Linked DNA regions of Homo sapiens. The protein of the gene in region 1 interacts with the protein of each later gene in a pairwise test. Each region holds a gene or a part of one and is shown on either strand. Other genes may lie near its edges.

Region 1 (5,194 bases):
AGACAGGTCATGTGTAATTATCAAGGCTGAAGAACAAACTTTTTTAAAAGATATAAAGGAAAGTGAACAGAACTTATAAAGTTCATCAAGTGGGACAATATATGCATTATGTAAGTCTGAAAAGGTGATGGAAAAGAGAAAGGAATAACAAAATTATTGAGTAAATAAGGACTGAAAACTTTCCAAATTTGAGAAAAGACTAAATGTACAGATATAAGAAACCAAACAAGCTGCAACTATGATAAACTCAAAGAAACTTACACTATGACACATTATTATCAAATTACCAACACTCAAAGACGAAAAGAAAATCATTTAAAAAGCGCAAGAAAAAGGCAACTCATTATATCCAAGAAATCTTCAATAGGATTATGAGCACATTTTTCAGCAAATACTTTGTAGACCAGAAGGTAGTGGGACAATACATTTCAAGTGTTTAAAGAAAAGTCTGTCCATCAAAAATGCTATATCTGGGAAACCTGCTATTCATAAATGAGAGAAATTAAGACATTCCCAGATAAACATAAGCTGAAGGATTTCATTACCACTATATCTACCTTAAAAGAAATACTAAAGAGATTTCTTCAAGCTGAAACACAAGGATGCTAGATGGTAACTCAAACTCATACAAAAATGTAAGTTCTTGATGAAAGGTAAGTATATACATAAACATGAAACATGACTTTTGCTATTTTGATTTGTAATCATTTTTTATTATTTTATAGGATTTAAAATGTGAAAGCAAAACAATTTATAAATCAATGTTAATTGGTACATATTATATAAATGCAATTTGTAATATTAACATAAAATATGTGTTGGGGAGCTGTAAAGGAGTAAACATTTTGCATATGATTGAAGTTAAGTTGTTATTAGTTAAAAATAGATTGCTATAACTTTAGAATATCATATGCAACCTGATGATGACCACAGAGATATCTGTAGGATGTACACAAAGGAATAGAAGAACATAAAAATGTTTCACTACAGAAAAAAATCAACAAAAAGAAGTCACTAAGAGACAAAAACCTATTAAGACATACAGAAAACAAATAAAAAATGGCAACAATAAGTTCTAAGTTCTTCCTTATCAATAATTAGTTCAAATGTAAATGGTTTAAACTTACTAATCAAAAAGCATATTAAAATTATATATACATATATATCACAATGAATTTAAAAACAGGGGATCCAAGTATATGTTGCATACAAGAGGCTCATTTTACAGATGTAAGGACAAAGATAGAAAGTGAAGGAATAAAAGAGATATTCCATTGAAATATTAAATAAGAGAGCAGAGTTTGCTATACTAGGATCAGATAAAATAAAAATAACAGTCAAAAAGTGTTATAAGAGACAAAGAATATTACATAGTGTTAAAAAGGCCAGTTCACCTAGAAGATATGACAATTAGAAACATACATGCACAAAACATCAGGGCTCCTAATATATGAAACATTTACAGAATTGAAGGGAGAAATAGACAACTCTAAGGTAATAGTAAGAGACTTTAATGTTCCACTTTCAATAATAGGTAGAACAATCTGACAGAAGAAAATTTGGAAAAAATAAATATTGAAAAACATTATAGACCACTTATAGACCAATTATATCTAACAGATATATCCAAAACAGTAAAGCCAACAACAGTAGAATACACATTTTTCACACGAACATATGGAACATTGTCCCAACATATACCACAAATTAGGATGCCAAACAAGTGTTAATAAATGTTAAACGTTTGAAATCATACAGAGTATATTTTTTTATCATAATGGAATAAAAGTAGAAATCAACAGAAAGAAAACTAGAAAATTCATGACCCTGTGAAAATAAACAACACAAACAATGAAACATGTACAAAGAATCACAAGTCAAATTTAAATCCATATTTAGAGAAATTATATAGAAACACAACATATCATTTCATTAAATGCAAAGAATATGGTGATGAGGGTAATTTACAGATTTAAACAACTACATTTACAAAGAAGACTCTCAAATCAATAATCTGACTTTACACCATAAGGAACTTAAAAAAGTAGAACAAACTAAACCAAAAGCCATCAAAAGGAAGGAAAAAATAAAAATTAGAGGTAAAATTGAGATTAGAAAAATAATAAAGAAAATCAATAAAAAAAAGAGTTGGTTTTCTGAAAATGTGAATAATACTGACAGAACTTTAACTGAATTGACATAGAAGAAAAAGAAGGAGACTCAAATAATAAAATCAGAAACTAAAAAGAGAACATTACAACAGATTTCACAGAAATAAAGAGAATACTTTGAACAATTATACATCAATAAGTGGGATAACCTAAATGAAATGGATAAATGGATAAATTATTAGAAACATACAACCTGCAAATTTTGAATCATAAAGAAATAGAAAATCCGAACAGTCATTATGACTAGTCAGGAGACTGAATCAGAAGTCAAAAACCTCTCAATAAAGAAAAGTCCAGACTAAGTGGTTTTACTGGTAAATTCTACCAAATATATAAAGAAGAATTAAGACCAAAATTCCTCAAAGTCTTTCAAAATTTGAAAAGGAGGGAACACTTCCAAACTCATTGTATGACTCAGCATTACTCCAATGCAAAGCCAGACAGAGGCACTAGAAAAATAAAATTTTCTAAACAATATCCCTTATGCATGTCGATGCATTTTTTTTTTACAAAATGCTAGCGAACATAATTATATAGCACGTTAAATTTATTTATGCATCATGACCATTTAAGGTTTATCCCTGGAATGCAATGATGGCTCACCATGCAACAATCAATTAACACTCTTAATGGTAAAAGACTGAAAATATTTCTCTTATTCCTGAAAGATGAGGAAAAATACACAGATGCTCATTTTTCACTTGTAAAAATCAATTAAGATAATACACCACATTACCAGAATGAAAGACAAAAAAAAAATGATCATCTCAATTGATGCAAAAAATAAATAAAGCATTTGACAAAATTAAATAGCCTTTCATGTTAGAAACACTCAGTAAACGAAGAATAGGAGAAAATTACTTCAACATAGTAAAGTCTACATACGAAAACACCATAGCTAACATTATTCCCAATGGTAAGAGACTGAAAACATTTCTCTTGCTCCTGAAACATCAGGAAAAAGACAAGGATGATTTTTTTGTTCACTTCTGTTTGAGATAGTACTGAGGGTTTAACACCCACCCCCCGCCCCCACCAAAAATAGGCAATAAACAGAAAATATAAAATATCCAAATAAGAAAGAAAAAAGGTAAATTCTCTCTCTTTACTGGTGATATGATCTTATATGTGGAAAGTCCCAAAGATTCTATGTAAATACTTAGAATTGATAAACAAATCCAGCAAAGTTACAGGAATCAAAGGCAACACATACAAATCAGTTGTGTTTTTATACGCTAACAACGAACAAAAAGGAAATTAAGGAAACAGTTCTTTTTCTGTATACAATAGCTTAAAGTAGTAAAATACTTAGGAATAAACTTAATCAAGGTGGTAAATTATACAACACTTTGAAGGAATTAAAGAAGGCACAAATGTACATGGGAAGGCATCTGTGTCCAGGGGTTAGAAGACTTGATACTGTTAAGGTGTCAATACCCAAGGAACTGCATATGCAATGCAATTTGCAATGTAATCTGTAATGCAAAATCCCAGAAGTGTTTTTTACACGAACACAAAAATTTGTCTTAAAATTCATGTAGAATTTAAAGGTACTTTAAATAGCCTTTTTTAATCTTGAAAACAAGAACATGGAGGTTTCAGACTTCCTGCTTTCAAAACTTGTTATAAAGACACAATAATCAAAACAGTGTGGTATTGGCATAAAGACAGACATAAAGAACAATGGAATATGATAGATAGCATAGAAATAAACCCTGAGAAATATGGCTTATTGATTTTTGACATGGACGTCAAGGCTGTTTAATGAGAAAGAACAGTCTTTTCAAAAATGCTGTTGGGCAATTGTGACATCTGTATACAAAAAGTTGAACCCTTACCTACATCATATACAAAATGTAACTCAAAGTATATCAAATATCTAAATGTAGGAATTAAAACTATGAAACTCTCAGAATAAAACAAAAGGGAAAGGCTCCATGACATTGGATTTGGCAATGGGTTTCTTGGACATGACACCGATGGCACAGGCAACAACAACAACAATAAAATAGATAAATTAGACTACAACAACATTTAATTTTTATATACATCAAAGACACAATTAACAGAGTAAAAAAGGGAACCTAGAGAATGAGAGAAAATATTCACACTTTATATATTTGATGAGTGCTTTATATCCAGAATATACAGCCAACTCCTACAAATCAACTCCAACAACAACAGAATCCAAACAGTGTGATAAAAATTGATAAACACGGTGAAACCCCTTCTCTACTAAAAATACAAAAATTAGCCGGGCATGGTGGCGCGTGTCTGTAGTCCCAGCTACATGGGAGGCTGAGGCAGGAGAATGGCGTGAACCCGGGAGGCGGAGCTTGCAGTGAGTCGAGATCGCGCCACTGCACTCCAGCCTGGGCGACAGGGCGAAACTCCGTCTCAAAAAAAAAAAAAAAAAAATTGATAAAGGACTTGAATAGACATTTCTTCAAAGGTGCTATACAAATGGCCAATAAGCACATATGAGTATGCTCAACGGCAATAATCTTTAGAAAAATACAAATCAAACCCATAAAAACCACAATGAGATATAACAATTAAAAACATACATGCACAAAACATCGGAGCTCCTAGGATGATGTTTTTTGGTACTGTCAAAAAAATAACTACAGAAAATAACCAGTGTTGGTGAGGATGAGTAAAAAAGGGAAACCTTGTACATCATTGGTAGGAATGTAAAATGGTTCAGATGCTATGAAAAAAATATGATTCTTACTCTTAAAATTAAAAATAACATTACCATATGATTCAGTAATTTCACTTCTAGATATATTCCCAAAATAAGTGAAAGTGTGATCTCAAATAAATGCATGTACATATATGTTCATTGCAGCATTAATCACAACAGAAAAATGTGAAAGTATTACAAGTGTCCTTCAATGGATGAATGAATAAAAAGAAATATGGTTTCTTACGTATTTTATGGTAAATACATGAAATGGAATATTATTCTACCCTAGGAAGAAAGAATATTCTGACACATGATACAATACAACATGAATGAA
Region 2 (4,347 bases), on another chromosome or scaffold:
TAAAAGATTAATACAATGGAAATAGGATGGAATGCCATTTTGTCACATTTTTTCCGTTTTAGGGTATATAAGCAAACATCCGAATTCTCTGAAGATAAAACTTTCTGCTGTGTACATATCAATGAATTGTTCAGATACATGGTTATATAGCTAGATTTAGGAGGTTGGATGAATAAAGACAGTTCTTTATGCTCCTGATGAATAAATGTTTGTGTATTAAGAGGTGAATAGGGGGCTGGACGCAGTGGCTCACACCTATAATCCTAGCACTTTGTGAGGCCAAGGCGGATGGATTGCCTGAGCTCAGGACTTCGAGATCAGCCTGGGCAACATGGCAAAACCTCGTCTCTACTAAAAATACAAAAATTAGCCAGGCATGATTGCACATGACTGTAATCCTAGATACTTGGGAGGCTGAGGCACTAGAATCGCTTGAACCTGGGAGATGGAGGTTGCAGTGAGCCGAGATTGCACCACTGCATTCCAGCCTAGGTGACAGAGCAAGACTCTGTCTTAAAAAAAAAAAAAAAAAAAAGGTGAATAGGGGAAGCACAAAATGTGTAGTTTTGAGAAAAGCCTATTAAAGGGGACCTAAGAATGGAGAGATTTGCGAGGAGAGGTTGTTGGATTTTGAGTAGAGTTCCTTTGAACAGTTTGAAAGAGACCCTAGAGCTTTCAGGAGAATGGCAGGAGACATCTCCTTCATTCTGCTGGTGCTCCACTGCTGCTTGAGGAAGGCAGTGTTGTTATGGGAAATAGGAGATGGATAATAACACAGCGATGGGGTGCCGGGATTCTGAGCATTTCCTTTTGGCCCTCTTTGACTTTGATTTGCTTTTATTTCCATTATCCTTGGATACTGAAAACTTTTCCTCATTTCAAGTTACTGTCATCTGTATTTTTTTCTTCTTGGATGTGTTTGTTTCTTTTTCATTCAAATCTTTTGCTACCTGAAGGTGAAATAAAAGGTTTTGGCAAATCACCAACCTGGGTGGAGGAGAAACCGCCCTGGGCATTCTGCTGCTTCGTGATCCACTTCACGATGTTGGTTGCAGAGGTCAGGTCCTCCGAGGTTGGGGCTGGCTGGGCCGTGAGATAAGCGAGGAGCACATAGGATGTCATCTCCACCTCAGCAGAGGGAGCCTGGGGTTCGTAAAAATGCCCCACTGGTGCCTTGGGTTTCTGAGGGCGCTCCCAATGGACAGAGTTGTCTTAAAGATGAGAAAAAGATATTTATAAGTGCCTACATATTTATATTTAATTCAAGGTGAAAGTACCCAAGCCAGTGCTGAAATGAGAATTGCATGCCCATTATAATCCCCTGTACTGTATGTAGATGCTTTTCCCTTCATGTAAATCTGAATTTGGTGTGTTTTAGCCCAGCTAAGGCAGATATTGATGCTGGAGTCAGAAGCCTATGCCTATCTATGTTTTCAAATCGTTGCTATAGTCGGGTTGGTGGGAGAAAGAAATGGCACAGCAGTTGTCTCATTGAGTCTGGCTATTTCCTATTTATGATGTTATATTAGACTATAGCTGGAGTTTGTTACATTTCCTATAAAGTGTGTCTTTATCAGTTTCTTGTGAGGATCACAGATCACATGAAATAGTAGAGTTTCTACTCATTAAATTGAAAAAAAAAATACAGTAATCCTTGAAATACCAAAGGCTGACATGGATGTGAAACAATGGGAACCAATATACACTGCTGTGGGAAGCCAACTGCTCTTTGGCAATATTCAGCAATGGGGAAGATGTGCTTAGCCCACTAATCAGTCATTATGCTTCTCAAAGCATAATTTGGAGAAACACAGATGCACAAGAAAACAGGCACATGAGTATTCATTGCAGCATTTTTTTTAATAGCAAAACATAAAAAAAATCCATGAGGAGAAACTCGATGTGTAAATTATGACTAATTTATAGACTGTAATATATTATGCAGCAGTGAAAATTAATGAGCTGACTCTGCACATACTTGTATAGGGGTCTTCATCAACATAGTGTTGAACTTAGAAAATAAAAAGCAGACAAACAAAAAACTAAGCTGCTGAAATATTCAAAAATGTTTCTCTTGTTTCTTGAATAAGAGAGAAATAAAAATCTTGTTTCTCTCAAGATGAAACACATGTGAAGATTCTAAATATTAGTTAGGGATACATATGCAGCAAAAATATAAGGAAATCCATGGAATTGTAACGACAAATTCAGGATAATGATTGCCTCTGGAGGTGGTAGTGATACACAAGGGATTTATTTTTCCCATGTCGGTAATTTTCTATTTCTTAATCTATGAGAGAGTTGTACAGTGTTTTCTAGTTATAGCTTATGCCCTTTTGTATATCTATTATAAAATATTTCTCAATACATTTTAAGAAGAATTAATGGCTGTCAAAGGAAAAAGGTAGACTGTTTTAATGGACATCTTGTGATTTGCATTTTATTTTCTATTTCTTCAACCGCTCATATAGACCATGGTATATGTAGAAGTACTGTGTGAATATGAGTAGATTGGTCAACATTATTGGTCTTATGAAATGGGCTTAAAATACCAGAATTCATTCAAGGAGTTACTTCCATGATTATTTTCTTATGTTTAAGGTTATATAATGTACCAGGTAAGGGTTGGGCATATATTGAGAACTGATATGTTAATTGTAATAACTAGTACTTTTATAGGATTTGCTATGTGACATGTACTCTACTAAGTGTTTTACGTGTACCAATTCATTTATTACAACAGCTCTGTGAGGTAAATACTATTATTATCCCCATTTTACTGATGAAGGAACTGAAACACAAGGAAGTTAATGACTTTCCCAAGCTCACATAGGTAGCACATTTTGGAGCTAGTCTCCAGAGAATGCTCTTCTTACCAGCATACTATAGAGATGGTCCCTGACTTACAATGGTCCCACTTAAGATTTTTTAGACTTTACAATGAGTTTGTCAGGATATAACCCCATCGTAATTGAGAAGCATCTGCACGGCCTCTTGTCTTCTGATTTCTGATTTGATTAAGAAATCCTAGATTTTATAAGATGCAATATGGACAAAATATATATGATATATAGAAAAGAAGAGAGGAGACAGGGATCACAGGAGGTAGGAGTGAGGGATTTTTGCCATGCAGTTCTTGATACAGAGGATGGGCCAGGAGAAGGATCTCAGGTGTGCTCTCACCTTTCTTCACAGCTTCCTCATTAAGTGACTTGAGTACTTCCTTCCTCTTGTCCTGGTTACCTGCCAGGGCAAAAGCATAGGCCAGCAGTGCTTTGGTATATACATGGCTGCCATGGTCCCCTTCTTGTGCTGTCTTCCAGGCTGACTCCAGGCAAAACAGGGCATTGCGGACAACAGGGTGCTGTGAAGGCAGAACAAGAAGGGAACTAAGCTATGTAAACAGGCATATTAGCATTCCCAGGCAAATACACGGATCACAGCACAGAAGTTTTTCAAACGCATTTTTCCAACGATTCCTCATTCTTATCAATAGATATAATATTATTTTTATCTGTTATTCTCACATTCAAAAGATACATCTTTAAGATTCTTTTTTGAGTGGTGGTGGTAAATAGCCTAGGGGAATTACTGGGAAAATTTAAACCTTTCTTAATGGGCTGACCAAATTCTCTGTAGATCTGGGAAGCACTGGCATTGCATAGAAAGAAAGCTGATGCTTTGCTTTTAATAGGATAGTATTTCAGACAGCAGGTCAGCAGTTTCATTGCATCCAGAACTCTCCTTCAGCAGAGGAATGGGGTGGTACCTACAGTGACTGTGAGAGGAATCTCCAGAAGGGCGATGGTGATATAGGCGGAGAGGGTCACTTCATCTTCTACTCCTCCCTGTGAATACGAGAGAGAGATCTGAATAATTCAACTTCTGAGAATGCTATTGATTAGTTCTTTCTATTCTGCTGTGTCATGGAATTCATCCTTACCCATATCCATCCCTATAGGGCAAAGTATCACAATCAACTTTTGTTCTATCCCCTCTTTTTTGGTGCCATCCAGGTTTTATTTTCCTCTGAGGCTTTCCCTTAGAATTTTTCACATTATCACTTCCTATCCTCATCCTTGCAGATATCATAATGGACAAATCAAAACTAGCTCCAGAATGATTCACCTTTATGGCATTGTTGAGCAGTGACCCAGAGCTCCTGAAACAGCCATTGTCCTTCTGCCTCTGGGAGAGCCATATGAGGGCTTGGGTAATGTGTGCTTCATCGATGAAGATGTAGGCTCGAGCTTGGGCAAAAGTCTTCAGAACAAAGGCTGTGAGCCTGACCAGGGAGGAAGCAATCATGATGTTTATGTTGTCAAAATGGTTTTATAACCACTTCAC
Region 3 (4,347 bases), on another chromosome or scaffold:
CAAGGCAAGAAACTATCCAACATGTTACAAAATACTTGTCTTTCCTCAGTAGTATTCCACTTGCACACACTGACATACTGTACCCCATGCTGTTCACTAACTGTAGGATTAATTTCTTGGCAAGTCTGTTTCAAATGAGCCCTTCTGTTTTGTCATCTCCAGAACCTGAAGCGCAAAGACTTGAACAGCCAGCCCTGCACAACTCACAGGTCTTAGCCAGTGAGTCAGCCTCCATCAGGCTGGCTTTCCACCTCCCCAGGTTCAAGGTCAAAGGTCTCATGACATTTGGAGAAGTAGTGAGCTAAAACTTAAAAGCTCAGGTTTTAGAATCAGAGATACCGAACAGGCTGCATGGCCCTGGGCAAGCTGCCACATCTCTGAGTCTCAGTCTCTACCCTGCGAGGTATGGTGAAGACTGAGTGAAATCCGCAGGCAGGCTGTTTCACACGGTGCCCAGTACAAAATAAGGGCCGAACCGCTATTTGGCTGTTGCTCTTGGGCAATGCAGAGAAAGGGAGGAACTAACAGGTCATCTCTCCCCCTGAGCTGCCCACGGCATCCTTCCTTGCTCAACCACTGGCTCTTTCTTCTACAAAGAAAATCATGTAGCTGAAGAAAATGGGGGAACTGGCCAGGCGTGGTGGCTCACGCCTGTAATCCCAGCACTTTGGGAGGCCGAGGCAGGCGGATCACGAGGTCAGGAGATAAGACCATCCTGGCTAACATGGTGAAACCCCGTTTCTACTAAAAATACAAAAAATTTGCCGAGTGTGGTGGCAGGTGCCTGTAGTCCCAGCTACTCGGCAGGCTGAGGCAGGAGAATGGTGTGAACCTGGGAGGCAGAGCTTGCAGTGAGCCGAGATCGCGCCACTGCACTCCAGCCTGGGCAACAGAGCGAGACTCCATCTCAAAAAAAAAAAAAAAACAGCAGGCCAGGTATGTAGCTCATGCCTATAATTCCAGCACTTTGGGAGGCTGAGGCGGGAGGATGACTTAAGTCCAGGAAGTCAAGACCAGCCTGGGAAACATAGGAAGACCCAGTCTCTACCAAAAAAAAAAAAAAAAAAAAAAAAAAAAATTAGCCAGGCATGGTGGCGCAAGCCTGTGGTTCCACCTACATGGGAAGCTGAGGCTGGAGGATCACTTGAGCCTAGGAAGTCAAGACTCCAGTGAGCTGAGATCACACCACTGGACTCCAGCCTGGGTGACAGAGTGAGACTCTGTCTCAAAAAATAAGCTGAGCACAGTGGCTCACGCCTGTAATCCCAGCACTTTGGGAGGCCGAGGTGGGCGGATCACCTGAGGTAAGAGTTCAAGACCAGCCTGGCCAACATGACAAAACCCCATCTCTACTAAAAATACAAATATTAGCTGGGCATGGTGTGCACCTGTAATCCCAGCTACTCAGGAGGCTGAGGCACAAGAATCGCTTGAGCCCGGGAGGCAGAGGTTGCAGTGAGGCAAGGTTACGCCACTGCACTCCAGCCTAGGTGACAGAGTAAAACTATCTGAAAAATAAAAATAAAACAGCACTTGTCAAACATTAGTGTTCATAAAAGTTACCTGGAGTTCATCAGCAAAGATTCCCCTCATGACTCGGAAGGGGACTGAGAATCTGCATTTCTTTCTACCCAGCTCCCAGGTGATGCTGACAGTGACCCTGATGCTTTTAACACTTAGGGTGCAGGATTAGGAACCAGATGGGACTGGCGGTGGATGGCCCTACTCACTGTTCTTGTTATTGAAAACCGACACAGACAACGCGTGTTCAATGTCTTTGAGCTTGATGTCTTCCCTCTGCTTTCCACTCCTCCAGAAATCCAAAGCCACATCTGTGATCCTTTCTGCTCCAGCATTGCTGCAAAACAATCCCAGTGGGTAAGGACAGGGTTTTCTCCTGGAGCTCAGAGGCTTGGGCTCGGGGCCCATCCATCATGTCCTAGCCCTGACCTTACCTGAGAAATATGAACATGGCTTTCTGGTAGGAGACCCCATCCACCAGGTCATAATAGTCGAGGAAAGGCTTGATGGCATCTATGAGGCCTGCATGCATCTTATCCATTTCATCAAATATGAAGATGGACCTCGCACAGGCACTCACGTTGCCTCGAATCCACAACTGTAACTGATCCTGAATTAAAAGGGGAAAAAGCGAACACAAAGTTCTCAGCCAGGGCCATCAATCAGCTCCTTCTACCACTAAGAACCGCAGCTTCACTTACAGACCACTGTGCACTCGGCACTAAGAACTTTACATGCCCAAAATCTTCTTTGTTCCTACCAACCCCATGGAGTGGGCACTATCGTTCTCATTTTACAGATGAGGGAACTGAGGCACAGAGAGCGCTTACTCCACTTGCCCAAGACTATATGTGGCAGAGCTGGGACCTGAACCCAGTCCTGTCTCACTCCAAAGCCCGATACTTTGGTTACGGTTCCCGCACTGCGAGATGCCACACGGATGCTGTCAGAGATGCTGCTCTTTTGTCATCAAAGGGGCAATGTGGGATGTCATGAGGATACTGATTTTTATTTAAAAAGGGGGTGGGGTCGGGCATGGTGGCTCACACCTGTAATCCCAGCACTTTGGGAGGCTGAGGCAGACGGATAAGTTGAGGTCAGGGGTTTGAGACCAGCCTGGCCAACATGGTGAAACCCCATCTCTATTAAAATACAAAAATTAGGGCCAGGCATGGTGGTTCATGCCTGTAATCCCAGCACTTTGGGAGGCCAAAGTGGGTGGATCACCTGAGGTCAGGAGTTCAAGACCAGCCTGGCCAACATGGTGAAACCTGGTCTCTACTAAAAAAAATACAAAAAAATTAGCTGGGTATGGTGGCAGGTGCTTATAGTCCCAGCTACTCAGGAGGCTGAGGTAGAATTGCATGAACCTGGGAGGCGGAGGTTGCGGTGAGCCAAGATCAAGCCATTGCACTCCAGCGTGGCGACAGAGCAAGACTCCATTAAAAAAAAAAATACAAAAATTAGCCAGGCATAGTGGCAGGCGCCTGTAATCCCAGGTACTTGGGAGGCTGAGGCTTGAGAATCGCTGGAACCTGGGAGGTGGAGGTTGCAGTGAGCTAAGATCACCCCACTGCACTCCAGCACTCCAGCCTGGGAGACAGAGCAAGACTCCGTCTCAAAAAAAAAAAATAATAATAATAATAAATAAATAAAATAAAATAAAATAAATAAATAAAATAAACAAGGATTCACTCAGACCTGTTAGGCTCCAGCAGCCAAGGTTTCTCACTCTGGTGACCAAACTTATATGCAATAACAGGGAACATGCACTGAGTGTTCACTATGGGAACAACAATATTCTAAGCACTGTTCATATAACTTTTTTTTTTTGACAGTCTCGCTCTGTTACCCAGACTGGAGTGCAATGACATGATCTCAGCTCACTGCAACCTCTGCCTCCCAGATTCAAGCGATTCCCTTGCCTCAGCCCCCTGAGTAGCTGAGACTACAGGCACCTGCCACCACGCCCAGCTAATTTTTGTATTTTTAGTAGAGATGGGGTTTCACCATCTTGGCCAGGCTGGTCTTGAACTCTTGACCTTGTGATCCACCCGCTTCGGCCTCCCAAAGTGCTGGGATTACAGGCGCGAGCCACCACACCTGGTCTGTTCATAGAACATTTTACTGTGACCTCCCAAAACCCATCACGGTAGTTACCATTGTGCTCCTTCTTTTACAAATGAGAAAACTGAGGCACAGACAAGTGAAGTAACTTTGCCCAAAGTCACAGTTATTGTTAGTGAAGCCTCAATTCTAAGATGATCAACTTATCCTGATTCGTCTAGAATGGTTCTTGTTTGTTTGGGACAGGGTCTCACTCCGTCACCCAGGCTGGACTGCAGTGGCTGTCTGCTCACTGCAGCCTCGACCTCCCAGGTTCAAGCCATCCTTCTGCCTCAGCCCCCTAAGTAGCTGGGACTACAGGTGCATGCCACCATGCCTGACTAATTTTTTTGTATTTTTTTAGTAGAGATGGGGTTTCACCATGTTCCCCAGGCTGGTCTGGAACTCTTGAGCTCAAGGGATCAGCCGGTTTTGGCTTCCCGTAGTGCTAGAATTATAGGCATGAGCCACCACACCCGTGGAACATTCGCATTTTAGTACAGAACCGCTGGACAGTGGGTGACCCACACGCTCACCCAGACAGAAGGGAAAAATGTGTTCACATTTTTCCATAGATACAGTCAGGGATAAATAACTGATTGAGGCCAGGCATGGTGGCTCATACCTGTAATTTCAGCACTTTGGGAAGTAGAGACAGCTGGATGACCTTGAGGTCAGGAGTTTGAGACCAGCCTGGCCAACAAGGTGAAACCCTGTCTC
Region 4 (4,347 bases), 7.9 Mb from region 1:
TCAGGGAGCTCTTTTTTTTTTTTTTGGAGACAGAGTTTCGCTCTCATTGCCCAGGCTGGAGTGCAATGGCGCAATCTCAGCTCACAACCTCCACCTCCCGTGTTCAAGTGATTCTCCTGCCTCAGCCTCCCAAGTAGCTGAGATTACAGGCACGCGCCACCGTGCCTTGCTAATTTTGTATTTTTAGTAGAGATGGAGTTTATCCATGTTGATCAGGCTGGTCTCGAATTCCCGACCTCATGTGATCCGCCTGCCTTAGCGAACCAAAGGGCTGGGAGTACAGGTGTGAGCCACCGTGCCCAGCCCAGGGGAGCTCATATTCTATCTAATTTAAGAATTTGGGCCAGGCGCAGTGGCTCATGCCTGTAATCCCAGCTACTGAGGATGCTGAGGTGAGAAGATCACTTGAGCTCAGGAGTTCGAGGTTTCAGTGAGCTATGATCATACCACTGCGCTCCAGCCTGAATGACAAAGCAAGTCCACCCCATCTCTGAAAAAGAAAAAAATTTTAATTATTTTTAAACAACCATTAAAGGTAATCAGAGGGATCTAGCACATACCAACATTAAAGGAAGATAACACAGTTATACTAAGAAAACTAATTGTTTCAGGTAACAATGTTTTTGCTCTATTTGCCCAGTGTTAGAATTTTACTTATTTTCTTGGTATGTAAAATCAATGGAAGAAATTTACTTTGGAAATGTATCAACAGCTCAGTTAGTTCACGATTTTAGTCATATCCTCTCTCCAGATAAAGATGGTAAGAGCAGCTTCTAGTTACTAAGCATATACTTTTGTGTTTGGCATTGTGTGAATGCCTTATATATACATATTCTATCCTTAAAGCTGCCCTAATACAGGTGGTGTTTTTTCTTTTTGAGACACAGTCTCGCTTTGTCGCCCAACCTCCGCTTCCTGGGTTCAAGCGATTCTCCTGCCTCAGCCTCCCAAGTAGCTGGGATTATAGGTGCATGCCATCATACCCTGCTAATTTTTGTATTGGAGACAGGGTTTTACCATGTTGGCCAGGCTGGTCTTGAACTCCTGACCTCAGGTGATCCACCTGCTTCGACCTCCCATTTTTTTTTTTTTTGAGTCATGGTCTTGCTCTGTCACCCAGACCATAGTGCAGCGGCACAAACACAGCTCACTGCAGCCTTGACCTCCTGGGCTCAAGTGATCCTCCTGCCTCAGTCTCCTAAGTAGCTGGGACCACAGCTGCATGCCACATGCCCAGCTAATTTTTAAAACTTTTTTTGTAGAGACAAGGTCTCATCACATTGCCCAGGCAAGTCTGGAACTACTGAACTCAAGCCATCCCCCCACCACGGCCTCCCAAAGTGCTGGGATTACAGGTGTGAGCCACCATGTCTAGCTTTTTTTTCTAACTTTAAAAAAGATTATTTCCCATGTCGGTAATCCCAGCACTTTGGGAGCAAGACTCCATAGCAAAAAAAAAAAAGAGATTATTTCCCTGGTGGTCTAGTGGGTAGGGGGAAATAAAAGATTATTGAAACGTAATATACACAGAGGAAAGTACACGTAAGTCTATACAGATCAATGAATTTTACAAACTCAGCATACCATGTAACCTGCACCAGATCAAGAAACAACTTTGTTAGGTCCCTTAAAACCCCACTGGGGACATGGGGGTGTTTATGTTAATATCCTCTGTTTACAGCTGATCAAAAAAGATCAGCTCAGTAGGGGCAGGGCTGGAATTTGAACTCAGGTGTCATTATTACCACATGAAACCTTTACAGTAGCTATACTATCATTCATTCATTCCACAAAATTTAAGTGGTTACTTTTTTTTTTTTTTTTGAGGCGGAGTCTCACTCTATTGCCTAGGCCGGAGTGCAGTGGTGGGATCTTGGCTCACTGCAACCTCCACCTCGCGGGTTCAAGTGATTCTCCTGCCTCAGCCTCTGGAGTAGCTGGGATTACAGGCGCCTGCCACCGCACATGGCTAATTTTTGTATTTTTAGTAGAGACGGGGTTTCAACATCTTGGCCAGGCTGATCTTGAATTCCTGACCTCGTAATCCACCTGTCTCGGCCTCCCAAAGTGCTGGGATTACAGGCGTGAGCCACTGCGCTTGGCTTTTTTTTTTTTTTTGAGACGAAGTCTCCTTCTGTCGCCCAGGCTGGAGTGCAATGGTGCAATCTCGGCTCACTGCAACCTCTGCCTCCTGGGTTCAACCAATTCTCCCATCTCAGCCTCCTGAGTAGCTAGCACTACAGGCATGTGCCACCACGCCTGGCTAATTTTTTATACTTTATTAGTAGAGACAGGGTTTCACCATGTTGGCTAGGCTGGTCTCGAACTCCTGACCTCAAGTGATCTGCCCGCCTTGGCCTCCCAAAGTGCTGGGATTACAGGCATCAGCCACTGCACCTGGCCTAAGTGATTACTATGTGCCAGGCATTGGGTAAACTGGTGATACAATGGTTAGCAAGACAAAGAGACAGATAAGATCCTTGCCCTCATGAAGGAGCTTATATAATAGAAAAAAAGAAAAACAAGTCAACAAAAGTTGTCATAAATGCTATAAAGAACACAAACATGGTGCTCAATGAGAGAATTAAGGGAGTAAAATGACCTAGTTTTAAAGTGGTCAGGGAAGGTCTCTCTGAGGAGGTGACTTTACAGCTGAAAGCTCAAGGTTAAAGAAGATAGCCACACAAAGAAAAGTGGAAGGATGCCAAGAAGAAGGCACAGCATGTGCAAGTCTCCAGAGGCAGGCTGGAAAACACTGGTTGAACTGGATCCAGGAACTGAAAAATATCAGTGTGGTTGGAATGACTTTGGAGGGAGACAGGAAAGGGCCAAATATATAACCTAAGGTTAAGAGTCAGAATAAAATCCAAACAGCAGAGGGACTATATTATAGAGTTAAGCAGGGGAGTGATATATTATTTGTGATTATTTGAAAATATTTTTATGAAACATTTCAAACGTGTAAAAAAGATATGAACACTCATGTACCACCCAGCATTATCAAATCTAAACGCTATTGTTAGATTCAAAATTTTGTTAATAATTAAAACATACATGATACAGCAATGCAACTAAACAACTGTCTATTCCTTTGTTTAGTTTTTCAATGTTATCAGTACAAATTCATCCTATGATCTCCCCAGTAGTCTCGATCTCCTCTGAATGTATTCAGGCACCTCAGGTTTTCTGTTAAACCAATTTTCCTGAAGAAGTCGCTCCTACAGCATCTGACCTGCTCCTGCAGTGGCTCTTCTCTATGCCTAGTACACAGCTGTCAGCCTGGAAGCCTCTTTCACTGCACTGTCACCTGTCTTCCCCTTTCCTGCCTTTCCCTCTCATTTTTGCAAATATTTCCAGAAACTTTCTGAGAAGGGGAATGATGAAAAACTCTGAGGTACTGCATGTCTAAAAAAATGTATTTAGCCTACTGTAACACCAAATTGATAGTTTGCCCGAGTTTAAAATTCCAGGTTGGAAATAATTTTCCCTTAGAATTCTGAACAGATTCTCCAATTGCTATCTAGCTTCTAGTGCTACTTTCAGGGAAGGCTGAAGTCATTTCAAGTCTATTTTTTAACGTGTTCTATTTCTCTTCTCTAGAAGCTTTTAGGATTTTTTTTTCCCTCAGTGTTCTGACATTTTATGATAATGTCTCTTAATGGGAACCTACCTTTATCCTTCATTATGTTGGGACCTAACTGGCCCTTTCAATTCAGAAACAAAGATCCTTCAATTATGGGACACTTTCTGAATTATTTCACTGATGCTTTTCTCCTCTGTTCTGTTAATTATGTATTCTGATCACTAGGTTTATTAGTTCACGTGTTTATATATACCAGTTTACCATGCTATACCCCACTCTTTTGTTGTCCTCCTCTTGTTTTAGAGATAAGAGTCATGCTCTGTCACCCCAGGCTAGAGTGTAGTGGTGTGATCATAGCTCACTGCAGCCTTGAACTACTGGGCTCAAGTGATCTTTCTGCCTCTGCCTCTCAAGTAGCTGGGACTACAGGCATGCATCTACCATGCCCGGCTAATTTTTTAAAAAATAATTTAGGCTGGGCGCGGTGGCTCACGCCTGTAATCCCAGCACTTTGGGAGGCTGAGGCAGACGGATCATGAGGTCAGGAGATAGAGACCATCCTGGCTAACATGGTGAAACCCTGTCTCTACTAAAAATACAAAAAAGTAGTCAGGCGTGGTGGTGGGCGACTGTAGTCCCAGCTTCTCGGGAGGCTGAGGCAGGAGAATGGCGTGAACCCGGAAGGCGGAGCTTGCAGTGAGCTGAGATCACGCCACTGCACTCCAGCCTGGGCGACAGAGCAAGACTCCATCTAAAAAAAAAAA

What was found. Proteins that work in one complex are often made in the same cells at the same time.
Region 2: the proteins of MNDA (region 1) and A2M interact in binary tests that used the Homo sapiens proteins (3 or more experiments, as listed by UniProt).
Region 3: the proteins of MNDA (region 1) and TOR1A interact in binary tests that used the Homo sapiens proteins (3 or more experiments, as listed by UniProt).
Region 4: the proteins of MNDA (region 1) and SETDB1 interact in binary tests that used the Homo sapiens proteins (3 or more experiments, as listed by UniProt).

Annotation. Positions count from the first base shown.
Region 1 is NC_000001.11:158,833,627-158,838,820, reverse strand, and holds part of MNDA (myeloid cell nuclear differentiation antigen), read right to left. Parts: intron 1-5,194. UniProt on the Homo sapiens protein: May act as a transcriptional activator/repressor in the myeloid lineage. Plays a role in the granulocyte/monocyte cell-specific response to interferon. Stimulates the DNA binding of the transcriptional repressor protein YY1.
Region 2 is NC_000012.12:9,073,573-9,077,919, forward strand, and holds part of A2M (alpha-2-macroglobulin isoform a precursor), read right to left. Parts: intron 4,286-4,347; coding exon 4,129-4,285; intron 3,849-4,128; coding exon 3,774-3,848; intron 3,365-3,773; coding exon 3,184-3,364; intron 1,212-3,183; coding exon 988-1,211; intron 1-987. UniProt on the Homo sapiens protein: Is able to inhibit all four classes of proteinases by a unique 'trapping' mechanism. This protein has a peptide stretch, called the 'bait region' which contains specific cleavage sites for different proteinases.
Region 3 is NC_000009.12:129,816,790-129,821,136, forward strand, and holds part of TOR1A (torsin-1A precursor), read right to left. Parts: intron 2,132-4,347; coding exon 1,956-2,131; intron 1,859-1,955; coding exon 1,731-1,858; intron 1-1,730. UniProt on the Homo sapiens protein: Protein with chaperone functions important for the control of protein folding, processing, stability and localization as well as for the reduction of misfolded protein aggregates.
Region 4 is NC_000001.11:150,953,863-150,958,209, reverse strand, and holds part of SETDB1 (histone-lysine N-methyltransferase SETDB1), read right to left. Parts: intron 1-4,347. UniProt on the Homo sapiens protein: Histone methyltransferase that specifically trimethylates 'Lys-9' of histone H3. H3 'Lys-9' trimethylation represents a specific tag for epigenetic transcriptional repression by recruiting HP1 (CBX1, CBX3 and/or CBX5) proteins to methylated histones.